Homo sapiens: one gene and its partner. The protein of the gene in region 2 purifies or fractionates together with the protein of the main gene of each other region. This does not show direct contact. Each region holds a gene or a part of one and is shown on either strand. Other genes may lie near its edges.

Evidence for each region. Proteins that work in one complex are often made in the same cells at the same time.
Region 1: the proteins of CCZ1B (region 2) and FAM167A purify together in Homo sapiens (co-immunoprecipitation; 2 studies listed by IntAct). This does not show direct contact.

What each region holds. Positions count from the first base shown.
Region 1 is NC_000008.11:11,456,754-11,463,753, forward strand, and holds part of FAM167A (protein FAM167A), read right to left. Parts: intron 1-7,000.
Region 2 is NC_000007.14:6,823,211-6,831,136, forward strand, and holds the start of CCZ1B (vacuolar fusion protein CCZ1 homolog B), read right to left. Parts: upstream 3,066-7,926; 5' UTR 2,988-3,065; coding exon 2,868-2,987; intron 1,528-2,867; coding exon 1,430-1,527; intron 1,339-1,429; coding exon 1,245-1,338; intron 957-1,244; coding exon 879-956; intron 151-878; coding exon 103-150; intron 1-102.

The DNA.
Region 1 (7,000 bases), on a different chromosome or scaffold from region 2:
GACGTGGGTGGTGCTGGATTAGGGGAGTGCGGCTGGCTAAGGGAAGTGAGTGGGGCTGGGTTAGGGACGTGGGTGGGGCTGGGTTAGGGAAGTGGGCAGGGCTGAGTTAGGGAAGTGAGTTGGGCCCTGGGTTAGGGAAATGGGGGGATTGGGTTCGGGAAGTGGGTGGGGCTGGATTAGGGGTATGAGCGGGGCTGGGTTAGGGAAGTGGGCGGGGCTGGGTTAGGGATGTAGGTGGGGCTGGGTTAGGGAAGTGGGCGGGGCTGGGTTAGGGGTATGGGCGGGGCTGGGTTAAGGAAGTGGGTGGGGCTGGGTTGGGGAAGTGGGCGGGGCTGGGTTGGGGAAATGGGCGGGGCTGGGTTGGGGAAGTGGGCGGGGCTGGGTTAGGGGTGTGGGTGGGATCAGGGCTCCACAGGACAGCGCTCCTGGGGTTTTCTCCAAGCACCCCTGTGGTCTACCCTGCCGGGTAAGCATTCCCTCTGGCACATGTCCAGCCAGGACAGCACTAGCCTTCCCCCTTCCTGGAAGCCTCCTGTTTGCTGCCGGGGTTTCCCCTCCCTGCTGCACACCCTTGTGAGAACTCGGCAGTCTCTTCTGAAGGACATTGATGCTGTGCCACAATGTCATATGCTGGCTGCTTCATGCCTGGTTCTGCTTGAACCTCATCTCCACGCAAACCCCAGCCTGGGCCACAGGATGGAGCCCAGCGCTCGCCTTCCTGGTGCTTCCGGAGCTCATCACTTACTCCGTGATGTTTGTTGGTGTCTGTGTGTCCCACCCTTGAGGATGCCAGCTCCTAGCAGGCAGGGGCTTCCGAATTCTGTTCCTGACTGTGACCCCGGCACTCAGAGCAGTGCCCGGCACACAGCGGGTGCTCAGGAAACTTGCTGAGTAAGAGAGTGGGTACATGAATGAATGAAGAGGACTTTCTGGGCAGTCCATCTGGCCCTTTGTCCTTGTCTTTGGCCCTCACTGGCGAGCTAGGCCCTGCACTGCCTGAAAGCTCATCCGAGGGCTCGCCTCCTCCCTGAAGCCCTCTCACACTCCCCACCTTCCAGGCCACCTTTCTCTGAATTCTCCAGTCACTTGCTTTCCTCATGCTGACTGCACACTGGCCCGCATGACCTTGAACTGTGGGAGTCTGTGGTCCTGTCTTCCTGACCAGACATCAGCTCCTTGAGGGGCAGGACACTGCTGCACCTTTTGTGTCCCGAGCACAGGGCCCTGTAAACAGCAGATGTTCAGTGTGTGCTGATGACGCTGATGCGGTGAAGTCAGCGAACAAAGTCCAGCCAGAGTCGTTCACAGCTCCAGATGACATCTCCCCAGCAGACCTCCCACAGCTTCATGGGTAAGACTTTCAAAGTCAGAATGCTTCTGGTGGCTGAGTCATCTTTCTTGAGTTGAGATGGGGTGGTTTGGGATGCTGGTCTCAACTTTATGTCTCATCCTTCCGCGATAGCCTTATGTTTGAATTTGACTCAGTCTTCAAGCCTGGATCAAACAGCACCTCACTCGACAGTCTTTTGTGCTCTTCCGAATGGAGCTGATGGCTTCCTCCCTTCACACTTGGATCTGAGCACTTTCCTGCCCACTCTCAGTGCAGCAGTGCACCTGCTGGATGGTTTTACTGAGTCACATTTCTGATGTGCCTCTCGGGTGAACAGATCTATCTTTTTCCAGCATCCCTTCTGTGGGCATCACTCCTGTCTAATTTCAGGTGGTTCTGAAGGGACCATGAGTCACAGCACCTGCCCATCACCCCTGCCCCAGGAACACTCACGACACCTAGAAAGAGACGTTCATTTTAGCCCTTACTCTGGCAATAGTGACTGGGCCTGGGGATGTGCAATGGGCCACAAAAGACCAATCAGAATATTTTCATGGGATTTAAACACAGACACTTGGAGAAATAGGGTATTTTCATCAGGAGCAGCTCAGCTGGGAGGATATAAGCTTGGAGTTTCCAGAGTCTGGAGAAAGCCCGTCTGTAGTAAAAAGGGAATAAGCCTGAGGTAAGGCGAACTAAGGGAAAAAAAAAACAGAAAGAGAGAGAAAGAGAGAGCATCCTGACATCTTCTGAGCCCTTAGGCCCAGCAGAACCTAAAGAGCTGAACTTCCCAGTGAAATGCACCAGAAGATTCTCTTGCCATCAAGAGAGGCTGGAACGGCACTGCCCACACTAGCCTGGGCTTCAGGAGGGCGAATTCGCCCCCAGTTCTTCCCCCTGCTGCTCATGGCCACCTGCTGGGTATAACCAGTACAACTTCAACACATACTTTCTGATAATAAAATAAACGCATGAATGACTACTTTTCTCTCTATCACCCATTTCTCTATTTCTCATTTATACAGAAATAAATGAAAATTGTTAGAAGGAGGAGGAAAAGAGGAGACCTTTTTTATTGTGCCAGGCACTGTGCAATATCTAGTTTAGCCCTTGAAATGACCCTGAGGCATGACTGGTATTATCTAGTGTCTCGTATTATCTCTACTGCAGGCAAGGAAACCACAGTTCACAAGCAGGTCAGGGAAGGAACCACCATTCCAGCTCAAGTCTCCCCAACTCCACCATTGTGACCATCTTTCAGGTGGCTCCATTTGCACAGAAGTAACAGGCATGTGAGCTTTATAGTACTTACAAGTCCAGTGTTCCTAGAAACCTCAGGGGCAAATAACACTGAAATATTCCCAAGGCAATGCTTTGTTTTTCTGTAAAATTGTTCTGGGCAGAAGAGGAAGAAGAGACCGAGCGCCTCGGTCTGCAGTGCCAAGCACGTGGGTGCTGTGAGTACAGCTGCTGTGGCAGGAGGGCCTCTTTCCGGGGCTGGGGTCTTAGTCCTTGGGCAGGGCTGGGCAGTGAGGGGACCTCAGCCTAAGGGAAGTTCTGCCATTAACAACCTGTGACGCTGGACAAGTCACACGACTCTTTGGAATTCAACTGGAACAGGGATTCATTTCATTTCTTTTCTTTTTTTGAGACAGAGTTTTGCTCTTCTCACCCAGGCTGGAATGCAGCGGCACGACCTCGGCTTACTGCAAACTCTGCTTCCCAAGGTTCAAGTGATTCTCCTGCCTCAGCCTCCTGAGTAGCTGGGATTACAGGCACCCACCACCACACCCACCACCACACCTGGCTAATTTTTGTATTTTTAGTAGAGACGGGGTTTCACCATATTGGCCAGGCTGGTCTTGAACTCCTGACATCAGGTGATCTGCCTGCCTCGGCCTCCCAAAGTGCTGCGATTACAGGCGTGAGCCACCGCACCAGGCCAGGGACTCATTTCATTTGTCTGCTTGTTTTGGTTGATGGAGGTGGCTCCTGGGCCAGTCCCAGGGACAGCTGTGATGCTGGGGCCACCAGTGTGAGAGGATGGGTACATGGCATGAAACCCACTACAGGGCTCTGGGAGGGGCAGGCGCCCTAGTGGGCTGCACCCGTAGATTGCCCTAACACTCCGGCTTTAGGCAGCCCTCGGTGCCTCCTGCCTGGGGTCCCAGCATTGCCGATGGGAGCGGGAGAAACATTTTGGACAGAGCCAGCCTGGTGTGGAAGAGAAAAGAGTTCCCGACCTGGGAGTCAGCTACTGGGGTCCCATCCCACCCTAAGCCATTGGTTTGGGTGTGATGACCTCCGTGCCCTCTTCCACCCTGACACATGCAGAGTCAGCCCACAGCAGCAGGTAGTGGGACCACCATGTCATGGAGCCACCCCCACGGGGCCAGGGAGTAGAGGCGCCGACTCGCCCACGTTTCCCTGGGGACTGTCTCCCAGCAGAGCCCGGTTTGCAGTGTCCTATGCTAATGGTTGCACTTCAGCTCAGGATAGAAGCTTCCGTTTCCACACCTGGTGCAACAAGAGCAACCACATGCATTTTTTAATCACACTGCATTTGCAAATTTTTTTCCCCACACACACAATGACCTGGGCTAGGGAGGCCTTCCTAAGAATTATACCACAGAGAACTGCACACCAGAGCCATCGAAAGAACTGCCCCAGGTCCCACAGCTCCATGAGTGGCGCTGGCTGCGCTTGCACCCAAGTCTTCTGACTCCGAGTTGAACCCTGCATCTATTGTCTAGGAAACAGGGAAACCTTGCTTGTCTCGCTGGGACATTATGAGAAAAGAATCTATAAAAATACTTAAGACCTTTGCAAATTCAAAGTGCTGGGTCCATGCTGAATAATTGATGGGCTCAGGCTGCTTCAAGCTGACGCACAGTCCTCCTGCAGGAAGGCTGGGAGCGCGGAAACCTTCCTTTTCATTTAGCCCGGTGAAAGAGGCTGCTGAGAAAATTGCCAAGAAATACTGCTTCCCTGTTGGTCAGAAAGAGGCCCTGGCTCCTGGGAGCCACAGATCTAATTTATGGGCTCCCTGCAAGGCGGGGAGAAAGCCCAGGGCCACTGCAGGGAGAGGGGCTCTTGGGACGCCCAGTCGCTGGTGTGTCCCTTCCAAGGCTGCGGGGCTCTGGGAAAGGGCGGCCCTGGCAGGCAGGAAGAGGTGCCTGAGAATCTGACAGTTTGGAGGAGATGGGGAGGGGGAAAGTAGCCATGGGAAAAAAAGAGAAGGATGTGGTTTTCCTCCCGGGAAACGCTCGACAAGGCAGGGATGCCCAGACGGGCTAAGGCAGCCTGCTGCCGCCCCGCCAACCGCCACATGAGACCCAGGGCTTTTCTGGCCAAAGGCCATGGTGGCAGTGGGGATTAGAGGGCAGAAAGTAGACACAGAGTGGCCTTTAAAGCAATCTGCAGAGATGAAAGCAGAATGCAGCGCAGGCCGGTACCCTGGCTATACAAACAGGAAACACTTCCCAGCTGGCTGAAACTCAGACACCAGGGCACAGCTAAGGACACGGGGGATGTGTGCCCTCCCCTGTGGCTTCAGCCCACCAGAGTGGCTCCTAACCAGCTGGCATTGGCCTCAGCCTCCAAACAAGGCAGATCTAGGACTATTTGAATCCACAGGATAATTGGCTCCAAGTTGAAAATAGGCAGAATCAACAAACGCCAGCTCAAGGGGGGATTTGTCCAGATGATCTGATTTCTATTTTACTCTGCAGCACAAGTTCCAAAGCCCAGAGTTTCTAAAAGGCTTCGTAAGGCCTTTCACGGTGTTCCCTGTGCTTATGCCAACTGGGCACCTCCACGTTCGGGCTGGGGGTCCTGACCTCTCAGGGGCTAGAAGGGTCCTTAGGGTTTCCTGGTGTTTGGACGCAGTGGGGTCCCAGTGTGGCCTCAGCCTGGCTTGGACTGCCCAGTGCAGCCTGTAAGTGGCTGCAGGTGCAGCGCTGTGCCTGCACTGGGGTTTGGCAGGGACATATGGCCTGAGTGCCCGCAGGCAGGGCAGAAAATGGGATGTGTGACTTTGCTTCCCTGCCGTGTCAGCTTGCGCTGGAGGTACTTGGCTGCTGAAGCCTCCCGGGTTCACACCTCGCAGAGGAAAGGAATCAGGAGCAGGAGAAAGGGATGGAGCAAGTTAGAACAGGGCAGAGCCGGGTGTCGGGGGACGTGGGTTGGTTGACAGCCAGCCTGCCACTTACTAGTTCTATGACCTTGATCAACAGATTCAACCCTCCTAGGCCTAGGTTCCACATCCATGAAACAGGATTGTAATGGATCGTACCTCACAGTCTTGGAAGGACCAAATGAGATCAAGTTTACGTGAATTTTTAGTTACACCTCTAATACGACTGTCACCTCCTGCTCTTGACTGTGCTTGGCTGTCACTCTCCTTGGTCCATCGAATTGGGAAATGGCTCCTGCACTGCGAAAGTTAACTGAAGCGTGCAGAACAGCATTTTACTGTGAGCTCAGGACTCTACTGCATCAGCAACCTCGCCAGACTGCACGCTCCCTGAGGGCACGGCCTTCACCTTCTGCTTCCTTGGTAGGGTGGTGCATTTGGATCCTAAACTCCTTTGCAGAGATGGTGGGCTGTTCTGTGTGGTTTCATTATGCCAGCTACAACCTAGATGTATTCAAATCAGCAACGCCCACCCCTACCCCACTCGCAGCCACTGCCTCGAAGCAGAAAGCATCTGCTCCAGAGGCAGCAGGGACAGGCACTTCAGCGTCTTTATCTCTGGTCAGCATTGGGCATTTGATGATTAGCAAAGTAAATATTAGAAATGCGTTCTCATTGGTAAAGACAGAGGTATTCAAGATGTGTGGGTTGGCTAAATGAATTCAGAGACACTCTTGACTCAGGAAAGAGCAGGTAAAAGAATCCATGAGAGCTCCAGGGAGGTGTGGTCAGGGCAGCAGAGAGCAGATTGCTGGGCTTCACCGAGCCCACAGGACAGGCTGTATGGACTCCGCTGGACTTGTTTCAGGTAAATATTTGTCCAAAAATGTGTACGTCTGGCAGAATTTGCTCTGAGGCTGCTTTCATTCAAACTTGATAATGAGGCTGGCTTCACCTTCCTCCAAGTTTTCAGTGGCTGCTATCAAACAAATAAACAAAATAGCAGCAGCCACACAACCAAATTTGGGAAGTGCCTTTGTGACTGGAGGGACTTAGGTCAGTTCACGCCTGGCATGGGACTTCCAGGGCGAAGTGCGTGGAGCTGATCACAAGACTAGGGAGGTAGTGTCACTTTCAACTTGATGGTGGACAGTGGGGGCCAGGTCCCTAAGGCAAAGACCCTCATCCAGAACCTTCCTGGGTGGCCACCACCCTAAGCATGAGCCTGCTGACCTAGGGGCTGCTGTGCCCAGCCAGCTCGCAGAGGCTCCGCTGGCTTCCTGGAATGAGGAAACACTGCCCAGCCTTCGAGAAGGCCTGGAACTGTAGCCAGTGCACAAGTCACTGCCTAGGCTCTTTCCATACCTGCCACTGGACCTGGAAAATGGGGTCTGACCTGGGCCTGTCCCTCTAGGGATGCCCAAGGGACAAGCCCTGCGAGGGAGCCCTTGGGCATCTACTGCCAGCTTCCACCTTTGGATCAGGATGCCCTGGAGGGAACTTCCGGCCACACTGAAGAAATGGGGGCTTGGTCC
Region 2 (7,926 bases):
GTCACTTTGCAGTCATTTATAGACTTCTCTTTAAACAACCCTGGAGCCTAGAGATAGGGGTAAGTGGTTGGACTCTGAGTTGAGAAAGAACGCCACGCTTACCTTGTACATGCTGTAGCACTGCCGCAGCACCGAGCTATAAACCTTGTCCTGCAGACGCGAAAACACAGCACACAGCTCAGTTCAAGGGAAAAACAATGTCTACTGGATAGATGGCAAAGGTACACTGACTCTTGGCCAAACAGTATAATGTTTATAAACTTCATCCCACAATAGTTGCGTGCTGAAAAAAAGTGTTTGCGTTCTTTTTTTTTTTTTTTTTTTTTGAGATGGAGTCTCGCTCTGTTGTCCAGGCTGGAGCGCAGTGGTACAATCCTGGCTCACTGCAACATTTGCGTCCCCGGTTCAAGCGATTCTCCTGCCTCAGCCTCCTGAGAAGCCGGGATGACAGGTGTGCGCCACCATCCCTGGCCAGTTTTTGTAGTTTTAGTAGAGACAGGGTTCCGCCATATTGGCCAGGCTGGTCTCGAACCCCTGACCTCAAGTAATCTGCCTGCCTTGACCTCCCAAAGTACTAGGATTACAGGTGTGAGCCACTGTTCCCAGCCAGAAGTGTTTAAACTCTAATTTGTCAATCAGTAAGCCTTACTTTAGGAGGGCTTTCAATATAGATGAAGAGTAGAAGGTATTAGTGAGATTGGGTGCATATACATTTTAAAAAGATTGTGCTCATGTAAATGATAAACATAAACCTTTGCTATATACCCCGAGAAACTTCTGCAAAAGCCTCCTAGTTTAAATCCGACCAAGTAAGGCATTCAACATACTCAGCAATACATTTAAAAAAATAAATAAATAAACAAACAATGACACATTACCAACAACTCCTCCTCTTGATATTCAATAACTGGTTTTCCATCTTTACTCTGTTTTTCAATTATAGGATTCCGAACAACCTACAAAGTTTGATAAACTGAAATTATACAATGAATTCATTAGACCATGTTTATTTTGCCTTAATTTAAAAACTTTGAACATGCTACAGCACCAGAAACACAACTTCTTAAAACAGCCCCAAGAATGAATAAAGCAAATAGGAAGAACTTGATTTTAAAATTGCAACCAATTTTATTTTAATTTTACTTGGATGCAACAGCCAGAGAACTTTCCTAAATTCTGAACAGTAAAGATCACCCATAACTTCACCATACAATTTCAGAAAGATACACTGTGTGTGTAAATACCATGACCATCCAGAAATTTTCTTCTGGTTCATTGAAGAACTGTCTGTTCTTCTGTGTATGTAAAGATTTTGCAGGTTTTGATGGGCTAAATGTCCTACAAAGGTTAAAAAAATATGTTTGGGACAATTCTCCAGCAGCAGTTTTAAGAATTCACTGAACGCTAAAGGCACACTTAGAGGTATTACCTTGTAAACTGTACAATAGCTTCACACAATCCGACATTTCTAATCTTCTCATTCTTTTCTACCTCATTTGGATGATAAAATAAAATCTTATTTTCCTCCTGAAACATGAGGAAACAGAAGCACAACATGAATAGAAACATTTCATCTTAGCTATTGAAAACGCTAAGTTCAATGTCGACCTCTTGTGTCACACATGCTAATGACAAAATAAAACAAAAACCGGTTTTAGAAAAACAGGAATTGTAATCCTAGTATTTTCAGAGGCTGAGGCGGGAGGATCACTTGAGCTCAGGAGTTCAAGACCAGCATGGGCAACACAGTGAGACGTCTCTATTATTTAAAATAAGAAGAAGAACAGGAATGATCTCATCATTGTGCAAATACTGCCCACCAGTCAGAAAGGCAATTTCGATAGTCAAGAAGTCACATCTGAAGTAGCACCAGGTAATTTTTATGAAAACTCAAGTCTCCAGGTTTCTTTCCTAGTGCTAATTTGTAATACACCAATGCTTGTAAGAAGTAAAGGTGTGCCCATCTGCAGACACATAGCTCCCTGAAAATTAAATCCAGTCAGTTCCCAGCCATTTGAACTGACAAGTTGTTTTTTTTTTCTTTTTCTGGAGATGGGGTCTGTGCTGCCCAGGCTGTAGTGCAGTGGCGCTATTACAGCTCACCTGCAGCCTCAATCACTTGGGCTCAAGCGATCCTCTGGCCTCAGCCTCCTGAGTAACTGGAAATACAGGTGCGTGCCACCACGCCCGGCTCACTTTTCAATTTTTTTTTTTTTTTTGTAGAGTTGGGGGTCTTGCTATGTTGCCCAGGCTGGTCTGGAACCCCTGGCCTCAAGCAATCCTCCCATCTCGGCCTCCTAAAGTGCTGGGATTACAGGCGTGAGTCACAGCGCCCAGCCTGGACAGTCTTTAACAGAAGTCTGACTTGCTGGAAACAAAACACAGCTCCGGACATCCTTTGAGAAAGTCGCCGTCCCCACCTCAGAAAAACCACACACACACACACACACACACCCCTCCCGAAATTAATTTATTTCCTCATTTGGGCGAAAACTATTACAGGGACCTCCAGGCTTGCATCATTTGAAGGCTAGCGTCTGCCACCCTGGTTCCACGCTTCTAGTTGGGGACTACCCACTTAACAAAGCCAAGTTCAATTTTAATTTCCCAGAACTGACGCAAAGCAAAGCGCAAAGAGCCTCAACCTGGGGTGTGGAGTGATATAGACCCGACGGGGCTTTATTCCATCGACCTAGGACCTGAAGCGGTCCCTGCCTGCTGTCAGGTCCCCGCCGCAGCCCCCTGCCCGGACTCGCACCTGGCACAATGCAGGCTAGGTCAGTGCCCCTCGAGGTGGGCAGAACCACAGGGCCACCTTCCCGGGGAACACCGGCGCCGCCCGCCCGCGCGCCGCCCCCTCCGCATACCTGTCCTTCGCGCGGCCCGAAGCGCGGGTTGTAGATGAAGAAACTCAGCAGCGCCGGCGGGAACTGCTTCTCCTGGGCCGCCCAGGGCCCGCTCCCGGCCCCGGCCGCCGCTGCAGCCATCCCGCCCCGGCCCCCACCTCGGGAGCCTCCCACGGCCCGCCCAGAGACAGCAGCCACCGGCTAAAACACCGCACTTCCGCCTCCGTCGCCACCGCCCCGGAAGCACTCGCCGCAGGCCCGGAAAAAGAATCCGCCTCGCAGCGTCCTCTTCAGGCACCCCCGGGTGGCCTTGTTGTCTGTTTCCTGGCCGAGTTTGTGTTTTGCTGGCTCGCGGAGTTTTCTCCTGGCTACAGGCGAGGGCTGCGCGTTTCAGGAAAAACCGAGCGGGCACTGTTTTTTTGTTGTTGTTGTTTTTTCTGATAGGGTCTCAGTTTGTCATCCAGGCTGGAGTGTAGTGGCGCGATCTCAGCTCACTGCAGCCTCAACGTCCGACACTCAAGCAATCCCCCTGCCTCAGCCTCCCAAGTAGCTAGGATTACAGGCGCGCGCCACCAAGGCCAGTTTTATTTTTTTGTAGAGGTGGGGTCTGTGTTGCCCAGGCTGCTCTCGAACTCCTGGCCTCAAATGGTCTCCCACTTCGGCCTCCCAAAGTGCTCCGATTACAGGCGTGAGACACCACCGCCCAGCCTGTTGTTGTTTTGGTGGTATTGTTTTAAATTTAATTTAGAGACAAGATCTCGCTTTGTCACCCAGGTTGGAGTGCAGTGGTGCCATCATAGCTCACTGCAGCCTCAACTCCTGGGCTCAAGGGATCTTCCCACCTCAGCCTGAGGAGTAGCTGAGACCACAGGCATGCACTACCATGCCCAGATAATTAAAAAATAGATAGATAGATAGTAGAGACAGGGTCTCACTTTGTTGCCCCGGCTGCTCTCTAACTCTTGGCATCAAGGGATCCTCCTGCCTCTGCTACTGGATGGAAGGTCTTGACCGTGGATTGCCCAGGTTCTTGGCTTGTTGAACACAGAACTGAACAAAATGCAATGCACAAAGTAACAAAAGAACAAAGCAACGAAAAGAAACAAAAGAAAAAACCGGAGTAAGGAATAGACAGATTTATTGAAGCGAAAGTACAACTCACAGAGCAGGAGCAAGACAGAGCAAACAGCTCAAGAGCCCCCATTAGGATTTTCATTAAGCTGGAAGAATTAGGTAACGCCCCTAGGTGCCCGTTAGAGGTCTCCGATTGGTTACACCCTCTGAAGGATTGGCCTGTGACCAATCAGAGGCTGAAGTGGAGACGCGCACCCGCCCCCCCGTCAATCAGAAGCTGTCACCCTCCCCCCCGGCCAACCCCCTGTCGTCCGTCAATCAGCCTCTGATTGAGGGAATGAACACGTGGCCTCTATGCTGCCTAATCTTGCCTAGAACTGGCTGCACCTGCTGTTCTTTTGTTTATGCCTTAACCCTTGGTTACCCTCATTCCCTATTCTGCCTCACCTGCCCTCCGAAAGTGCTGGGATTACAGATGTGAGCCACCCACACCAGGCCCATTGTTTTGTTTTTAGTTTATTTAAAAAGTATTTTATTCTAAGACAGCACTTTGCTCTGTTGCCCAGGCTGGAGTGCAGTGGCCAGATCAGACCTCACTGCAGCCTGGAACTCCGGGGCTCAAGTGATCCTCCCACCTCAGCCTCCCGAATAGCTGGGACCACAGGTGCATGCCACCATGGCTGGCTAATTTTTAAATTTTTCGTAGAGCTGGGGTCTCACTATGTTAACCCAGGCTGGTCTCGAACTCCTGGGCTCAAGTGATCCACTGGCCTTGGGCTCTCCAAGTGCTGGGATTGTAGGCATAAGCCCCTGTGCCATGGCAGTTTTTTTTGTAGAAGGAAATGTAGAGACACAAAGGAAGCCTCATTTAGAAATAAACAAGGCTGGCCACGGTGGCTCATAGCTGTAATCCCAGCACTTTGGGAGGCCAAGGTGGGTGGATCACTTGAGGCCCAGAGTTCCAGACCAGCCCCGTCTCTACTAAAATAAAAAAACTAGCCAGGAGTGGTGGCACATGCCTGTGGTTCCAGCTACTTGGGAGGCTTGAGGCAGAAGAATTACTTGAACCCAGTAGGTGGAGGTTGCAGTGAGCCAAGATTGCACCACTACACTCCAGCCTGGGCAACAGAGCAAGACCCTGTCTCAACAAAAAAAAAAAAAAAAAAAAAAGAAAGAAAGAAGAAAAGAAAGAAAAGAAACACACTTAGGGGCAGATGTGCATTCCGTTTGGCCCATTAACATCATCTACAGAGTCCTTGTTTGAGAGACCTCAAGTGACCACTGGATCACCCACACCTACAAAGCTTGCCCCTTCCCCCCATTCCTTCAGCGCAGGTCTGGAGGCAGATGGGGCACCATGTGTGCCACGGGAGCAATATCAGAGGTGGCAGACTCCCCAGAGTGGCTGTTCCTGGACCTTGTCGCCTGGGATTCCCTTGCCTTTGAGTTGTGTGGGTTGTGGCATAGTTGGGATGGCTTGTTACAGTTATGTGGATTCAAGCCTTGGCAGCATATGGTTTGACCAAACTCAAGAAGACTTTGGTTTAGATTGCCTTATCTGTCACATATTAAGTTTGGAAGCAGAACCACTTCCCTTATCCAGCCTGGCAGATAAGGGAAGTGATGAGTTGGAATTTGGACTGGAGACAGATCTGGGTACATATCCACTTTTGCCATTCACCGACTGCACCAATCTCCTTGCACCAAAGAAGAGATAGAGACTCTCTCGTCTGTATCTCTTATTTGGAAAATGGCTAATAGTAAATTCCTGCCAAGTGAGAGTTTCACTTGAAGAGTTAAATGGGACTATGAATGTGCATCAGGTGCCAGCAACTCATCATTATTTCATAAACTGTTGACTTTCCCAATTAGCTTGCTCTAGTGCATGCAGTTATTCCATGAGAAATACATGTTTTGGCTGGGTGTGGTGGCTCATGCCTGTAATCCCAGCACTTTGGGAGGCCGAGGATGGCAGATCACTTGAGGTCAGGAGTTTGAGGGCCAACATGGTGAAACACTGTCTCTACTAAAAAATAAAAATAAATAGCCATGCGTGGTGGCAGGTGCCTATAGTCCCAGCTACTCGGGAGACCGAGGCAGGAGAATTGCTTGAACCCGGGAGGCGGAGGTTGCAGTGAGCTGAGATTGTGCCACTGCACTCCAGCCTGGGTGACAGAGTGAGACTCTGCCTCAGTAAATAAATAAATAAATAAATAAATTAATTAATTAATTAATATAAAGTACAAGGTGCTATATAAGTGAGTGAGATTAATATTTTATAGTATGAGTCACAGTTTCTCCCAGGATACCTCTGTGTCCTTGTACATGTTTGCCTCTCCCTTCCTCCCACATACAATTCATTGCAGGAGGCATCGAAAGAGGGAGATGACAAAAAACAAAATGAAACATCCAGAGATCAAAGAAAAGAACATGCTTTTATGGTTTCAAAGTTAAGGATGCAAGAACGCTTAGACCTCAATGCATCTGCCTCTCCAAACACAGTCCTTGGGTGTGCACGGGTACCAGGCAGGAGTGGTAGTGACGACAGATACCCACATAGGTTTGGAGGTCTCAGAGGAGAGGGTGTGTGTGTCTTTCTCCCTGGGGAAGCTGGGGGAGGTGGTGAGCTTTGCAGAGTTCCCCTCTGGGTCAAGCATGGTTTGGTAACAGTAGAGTAACCACGGAACAGGGGTATCTGGATGAGAAATCCTTATTGTTCAGGAAGAAGCTGAATGACTTACTTGTGCACAGAAGGAATTCAGAGAAAGCCAGTGCTGAGAAGCCTCAAGGTCAGGACCAGGAGGAGGTAGCAGTGGCCCCTCAAGACCACGAGAGTAGAGAGGATTGAGGATGACTCTGTGTTCACTATTCGGACTGAGAATACTCCAGTCCCATCTGGGGCCTCGACTCTCTCCCCTAGCCTATGGTAAGAAGGGAGAAGAGGTTGCTTAATTACCTGACATGATTAAGATTCTGACACCCAGCACAATGGGAATTCAAATCAAGTTCAGTTACAGAAATAGAAGTTAGATGTTTTGCGCAAAGAATTTGCGAACTCAAATTCCAAAGGAATGAGCTGTGGGAAAGACACATTTTGGTGTTGGAAAGGGAGCTCAGTTCCAAGTAGAAAGTGACAGTTCCAACCGGGTGCAGTGACTCATGTCGGTAATCCCAGCAATTTAGGAGGCCAAGGTGGGCAGATCACTTAAGGTCAGGAGATTGAGACCAGCCTGGCCAACATGGTGAAACTGCGTCTCTACTAAAAAAAAAATACAAAAATTAGCCTAGTGTGGTGGCAAGCCCCTGTAATCCCAGCTTCTTGGGAGGCAGAGGCACGAGAATCACTTGAACCTGGGAGTTGGAATTTGCAGTGAGCTGAGATTGTGCCACTGCACTCCAGACTGGGCTACAAAGTGAGACTCTGTCTACAAAAAAAAAAAAAGAAAAAAAAAGTCCCAGTTCCAGGCTAGGTGGTTCTGGACATAGGTTGTCACATATGTCTGTCTCCTCCCTATCAAGGTTATATATATATATATATATATATATATATGCGTGTGTGTATATATATACACACACCACAGACACACACACACACACACACACACACACATATATATATATATATATAGGTTTGAGACAGTCTTGCTCTGTTGCCCAGTTTATAGTGCAGTGGTATGGTCATAGCTCACTGCAGCCCCTAACTCCTGGGCTCAAGCGATCCTCCTGCCTCTGCCTCCTATATAGCTGGTCCTACAGGCACGGGCCACCATGCCCTCCTTCCTATCAAGGAAAGTGAACTTCTTGAGGCCAGGACTCTGTTGGGGCCATCTTCTGGTTCCTGTTGTCTAACACAGTGCCTGCGTCACAGGACACGGTAAATCTGTGTTGAATGAATGAATGGAGGAGGCAGGGGATGGGGAGGAGTGGGCAACAGACGTCAGAGATGGGCTTTCATCCTTCAGAGCTCAGCTACTGCTTATCCTATGAATGGAGCTCAGTCCACAGG